Regions from separate parts of the Homo sapiens genome. Here region 2 is linked to region 1. Evidence: fine-mapped expression QTL. A gene starts in region 1. The other region holds a variant in brackets. All regions are shown on one strand. Distances are between the middles of the regions.

The links. PIP is the estimated chance that this variant, and not a neighbour inherited with it, causes the effect.
Region 2: its variant is the best candidate, but not a certain one, in a credible set for the expression of ZCCHC14 in whole blood (GTEx, PIP 0.56).

What each region holds. Positions count from the first base shown.
Region 1 is chr16:87,491,401-87,494,303 of GRCh38, forward strand. It overlaps ZCCHC14 (zinc finger CCHC-type containing 14), which reads right to left and starts at 1,624. Exons shown (of 13, transcript NM_015144.3): 1 at 269-1,624. The coding sequence starts at 838. It overlaps ZCCHC14-DT (ZCCHC14 divergent transcript), which reads left to right and starts at 2,787. Exons shown (of 4, transcript NR_110943.1): 1 at 2,787-2,835. RefSeq lists a silencer at 1,563-1,742.
Region 2 is chr16:87,512,391-87,515,293 of GRCh38, forward strand. All of the region lies in intron 3 of ZCCHC14-DT (ZCCHC14 divergent transcript), which reads left to right. Among named protein-coding and RNA genes, the nearest start is that of ZCCHC14-DT, 20 kb to the left of the region's middle. The variant C/T (reference allele first, on the strand shown) is at 1,425.

The sequences.
Region 1 (2,903 bases):
CGGAGGCTTGGGATGTACGGCGGAGGCTTGGGATGTACGGTGGAGGCTTGGAGAGGTGGGGCACACATTTGGGGTGCGACATAGAGGCTTAGGATGGGGCTTGGGATACGGGCTGGGGGCTCGTGGTGCAGGTTGGAGACCTGGGTGGGAGCTCTCAGTGCAGGCTGGAGGCGTGGGTCGGGGGGTCGCGGTGCAGGCTGGAGGCTTGGAGTGCAGAGTTGGGGATGCAGACTTGGGGTACAGGGCAGAGCTCGGGGCGGGCACGCACCTTGTGGCAGGCTGGGCAAGTGGGCAGCGCGCCGCCCGGCCCGGGCGCGCCCTTGCCGCCGTGGCCCCCGCCGCCGTTCAGGCTGCTCTGGATCTGCGTGAGCTCCTGGCGCAGCACCTGCTTCTGGTGGAAGCTGAAGGCCGGGTGGTTGGAGGCCATGGTGAACAGCAGCAGGAACTCATCGCCCGTGCGGCCCTCGTTAAGCTGCAGCCCGTAGTTGTGGATGATGGAGTCGATGTGCGTGAGCGTGCGGTAGAGCACGCCCGCCGCCTCGCGCTGCTCCGAGCCCAGCAGCGCCAGCGACACCAGCAGCTTGCTGCGCACCACCTCGTCCGTCAGGTTGGTGAGGCTGCCCAGGTCGGCCGGGTTGTTGGCCTTGATCTCCGAGTCGCGCAGCGAGTGGTAGTCCTTGCGGGCCAGGTCCTCCAGGCACGAGCCGAGGAAGCGAAGCTCGAGCGGGATGCACAGGTCCAGCAGGCCGCACAGGAACTCCACGCGCTGCGGCGACGGCAGCTCCGAGAACCAGCGGTACACGCCGTCCCTCTGCAGCGGGCAGCGCTTCTCCACCATGCTGCCGCCCGCGCCGCGCCGCGACCCGGGGCCGGGGACCGCGCGGGGGCGGCCGGGGGGCGCCGGGGGCCGCGGCCGGGGCGCGCCGGGACCGGGGACGCGCGGGCCGGGGCCGGGTCCGGGCGAGGGCGCGCGGGCGCCGCGGGCCGGGCGGGCGCCGGGGCGGGGGCGGGGACCGGGGCCGGGCAAGGCTCCCGTCAGGGGCCGGCGGGCGGGCGCGCGCGGGGCGCCGGGGGGGCCCGGGGCGGCCGGGGCGGCCGGGGGCGGCGAGCGGCCTCGGGCCCCCCGCTCACGGGGAGGCGCCTTCCCCGCGCCCGTGCCCAGCGGCGGCCGGTGCGCGGCGGCGGCGGCGGCTGCTCCTCGTCGTCGTCGTCGTCGTCGCCCGGGAGGCGGCCGCCCCCATCTCCCCCCGCGCCGCAGGGTCTGTCACTGCGGGCCGCCCCCCGACGGAGCCGCCCCGGCCATGCCGTCGCCGCCGCCCGCGCCTCCGCCCAGGCCGGCCGTTACCCCGGGCCGCGGGCGCGGCGTCGCCGCCTGGGGAGCGCTGGGGGCCGCGGCCGCGAAACGGACGCTGGAGGGGGAGGGACGCGCGGCGGGAGGCGCGGAGGGATCCGGCCGGGACTTGCCGGCCTTGCTGCTCCCGCGCGGCGGACGGATCCGGGCCCGAGCGCGGCGGCGGCGGCGACGGCGACGGCGACGGCGACGGCGACGGCGGAGGAGGCGCCGGCCGAGGAGCGGAGGGATCGTCGCGCTCGCGGCTGACGGGCGGCCGGGATCAGCAGAAGTGGGCGGGGTGGCCGCCTCTCGCGACAGCCCGGGCCTGCCGGGCCCGTCCCCCCCCCACTGATTGGCTCAGGCGGCCCGTTCTCGGCCCGTGATTGTGCCGGGTCCCCAATCCCATTCGCCCGTTCCGCGGCCACGCCTCCCTGGGGGCTGTCGATCATGTTGGGGCCACCGCCTCCCGTCCCTCGGCGGCCGTCAAGACGCGATTGGTCCGCGGAATCGGAGAGGCGGAAAACCCGGGCTGGATTTCTGGTTGCTTTTGTTCCCGCAAATTTGCGTGGAGCATTGTTTTTCGGCGAAAACGGGGCGTTCGGCCTTCCTGCTTTATTTTTGAGCGGTGTAAGAGGGAGGTAGTGGGTATCTTCGAGAAACGGCCGCCGCGGGGTCCGGAGCCCCGGGTTCCAATCCCGGGTCGGCCACTGCAAAGCTGTGTGACCTTGGGCGAGTCACTTGGCCTCTCTGAGCCCCAGGCGCCTCCCCGGGAAAAAGAGGGTAATAATAACCGCCCCCGAGGTTTGTGCGAAGGTGTTGAGCTCACAGAGGGCCGGCACCGGCACTTTTGAGGCGGCTGACTTGCCCTGGGGGTGTGATGGGAGGTGCAAGCTTTCTCCAAAAGCCTCGTCCAAATGGAGCCTTTAAATCCGCCTTCTTTCCGCGGCTACTTCACCAGCTCGCCAAACGCAGAAAATGCAAACACAGGGGAGGGGGCAAGGGAGCTGACCTGGCTGGAAGTAAACAGAAACGCCACCCTCCCCTGGCACTTGCATTGGCACCGGATTGCAGGTGGGGGAAGGGCCGGTGCACCCAACCACCTTTAAATCCCACCACTTACACACAGGCATAGAAGTAGAGCCGCGGGGGCTGGACGCTCATTCCTCCCCTGCCCTTCCCCTAGAGCGCTGCTTTGAATGTCTGTTGATCTAGAACGGGGTCTGTTCATTCATGGGTTCCAGGTCCCAAGCGCCCGGGGGCAGCTGAGAGCAAAGCTGGCGCCCTCCCTACCCTGTGGAGCTTACACTCTGGTTCTGGGCAGTGCACACTAGAGATTGGTTAAATCAATGAATGAACTTTTTCAGGATATGGTCCAAGGTGCTGAAAACTTCCTAACAAAACTCTTCAGCCGAATCTGGCACGCCTGTGGTTCCAGCTACTGGGTAGACCGAGGCAGGAGGATCGCTTGAGGCCAAGAGTTTAAGACCAACCTGGGCAACATGGTGAGACCCCCCCTCCCCGCCCCAGTCGCTCCAAAACAAACAAACCCCACATTCTCCAGTCTTAGGTC
Region 2 (2,903 bases), 21 kb after region 1:
TTTCACCATGTTAGCCAGGATGGTCTCGATCTCCTGACCTCATGATCCGCCTGCCTCAGCCTCCCAAAATGCTGAGATTAAAGGCGTGAGCCACCGCGCCCGGCATTTTTTTTTTTTTTTTTTGAGACAGAGTCTTGCTTTATCACCCAGACTGGAATGCAGTGGCATGGTCTCAGCTCACTGCAACCTCTGCCTCCTGTGTTCAAGCAATTCTCCTGCCTCACCCTCCCCAGTAGATGGTATTGCAGGTGCGGGCCACCACACCTGGCTAATTTTTATATTTTTGGCAGAAACGAGGTTTCCCCCATGTTGGCCAGGCTGGTCTCGAACTCCTGACCTCAGGTGATCTGTCCACCTCAGCCTCCCAAAGTGCTGGGATTACAGGCATGGGCCACTGCGCCCTGCCCTTATTATTATTATTTTTTTTTGTGGAGACAAGGTCTCACTGTGTTGCCCAGGTTGATCTTGAATTCCTGGCCTTAAGTAATCCTCCCACCTTAGCCTCCCAAAGCATTGGCATTAAAGGCATGAGCCACCACACCCGGCCAAGATACATAACTTAATCACATCTGCAAAGTCCCTTTTACCACATGAGGTCACATCCACAGGATCTGGGGATTAGGACGTGGGCATCTTTTTGGGGGCCGTGATTCACTCTGCCACAGTGGGTACACAGCAAGCCAATGATGGGGGTAATTAAGTTAGCATTAAATATCCCACGTGTTCTATGTTCTAGAGCAGTGATCATGCCCCTGGGGTGTGAGGTGATCCACTGAGGACCAGGAAGAAGAGATGAGATTATTGCTTAAGATTAAGCAAGAAATCAGGTTTTATGAATATTGACTCTGAGCTGACACTGGCTCTCTGTACCCATGACAGTCTAGTCAGAAAAACAGAAAACGCACTGGTTAGTTTAGCAGAGAGAATTTAATATTGGGCATTGGTGGAATGAGGAATGGAGGACTAAAGAGGCAGAAGGGGGACCTGAGGTCACAGGCAGGGACACCCCTCAGGCTTGGTGGCACTGCGGTGGTGGCTTCTCAGCTGTCACCCAAGGGAACCTTGCAGGATGAATGGGAGTTTCACGGTGAAGTCCCATCTGACAGTTTGTTAGCTCTTTTTTTTTTTTTAAGTGAGACAGGGTCTTGGTCTGTCAATCCAGGCTGGAGTGCGGTGGTGCGATCTCAGCTCACTGCGACCTCTGCATCCTGGGCTCAAACAATCCTCCTGCCTCAGCCTCCCAAGTAGCTGGGACCAGAGGCATGCGCCAACACACCTGGCTAATTTTTATATTTTTTGTAGAGATGGGGCCTCACTGTGTGGCCCAGGCTGGTCTTGAACTCCTGGGCTCCAGCAATCTGCCCACCTTGGCCTCCTAAAGTGCTGGGATTACAGGCGTGAGCCACCACACCTGTCTGTTACAT[C/T]TTAAAATATGGCAACATACGTTGGTGAAGTATTGGCTTACCAGAGTGGATCTGTAGCTGCTGGTACCTATCTTGTCTGGTTCTAACTAAATTCGGTGTATGCCTTAAAAAGATTCATACAAAGGAACTGTGGAATGAAGGAAACACTAACAAGCCAAGCAGAGTAAAGAGTGAGAACGCATCAGAGCAGCTGTCTTATTCCTGGCCTGTGCTCTTGGTCAGACATATCCCAAGGTAAAAACAAAGGCAGCCAGCCAGTCAGCCCGCAGAGGACAGTCACACGAACCCTAATTATCCAGAAGTCTAGTCGAAGTACAGATTAGAAAATCCATCATTGTTGACAATAATCCTCACCCCAAATGCATATTTTGCCTTGAGATGTAATGGAAACCATCATAATTAGCAAGACATTAAAAAGAATATTGTTTGTTTAATCTTTTACTTGGCATTTAGAAATTTCCATTTTGGCTGGGCGTGGTGGCTCACGCCTGTAATCCCAGCACTTTGGGATGCCGAGGCGGGTGGATCACCTGAGGTCAGGAGTTCAAGACCAGCCTGGCCAACATGGTTAAACCCCGTCTCTACTAAAAATACAAAAATTGGCCAGGTATGGTGGTGTGCACCTGTAATCCCAGCTACTCAGGGGGCTAAGGCAGGAGAATCTTGAATCTGGGAGGTGCAGGTTGCAGTGAGCCAAGATCACACCACTGTACTCCAGCCTGGGCAACACAGCAAGACTCCATCTCAAAAAAAAAGTCCATTTTGTTAGGAGTTTTATGATTATACATAAAATATGAGAGCAGCAATGCATATATATAATTCTTAAGTTTTAAGATACACGTATATGGTGGGCACCTGCGGGAAAGGTTTTGCCCATTAGGATCTATGATCTAAACACTTTGGAGACTCCTGCCCTGAAGAATTCATGTCTATGAGCTATCCAAAAACCCAGACCAGGCCGGGCGTGGTGACTCATGCCTGTAATCCCAGCACTTTGGGAGGCCAAGGCAGGCAGATCACTTGAGGTCAGGAGTTCAGGACCAGCCTGGCCAACATGGTGAAACCGCATCTCTACTAAAAATACAAAAATTAGCCAGGTGTGGCAGTGTGCGCCTGTAATGCCAGCTACTCGGGAGACTGAGGCAGGAGAATCGCTTGAACCCGGGAGGCAGAGGTTGCAGTGAGCTGAGATCATGCCATTGCACTCCAACCTGCACAACGAGAGCAAAACTCCGTCTCAAAAAATAAAAAAAAAAAGCTCAGATTAAACAATGATTATAGATGTTTTATGAAATCAATCAAGAAAGTTCATAAAGAGGATGACCACAATTTTTTTTCTGTCTGCAAGATCCGTATTTGTTGTTCTGTGCCACATTAATGATTACATAACAATTATATAATGTATATATCCAGGCCTTGATAATTGCCATTGTCTACAAGATGCTCTAGAAGTCCAAAGGGAAAATGAGCCTGAGAAAG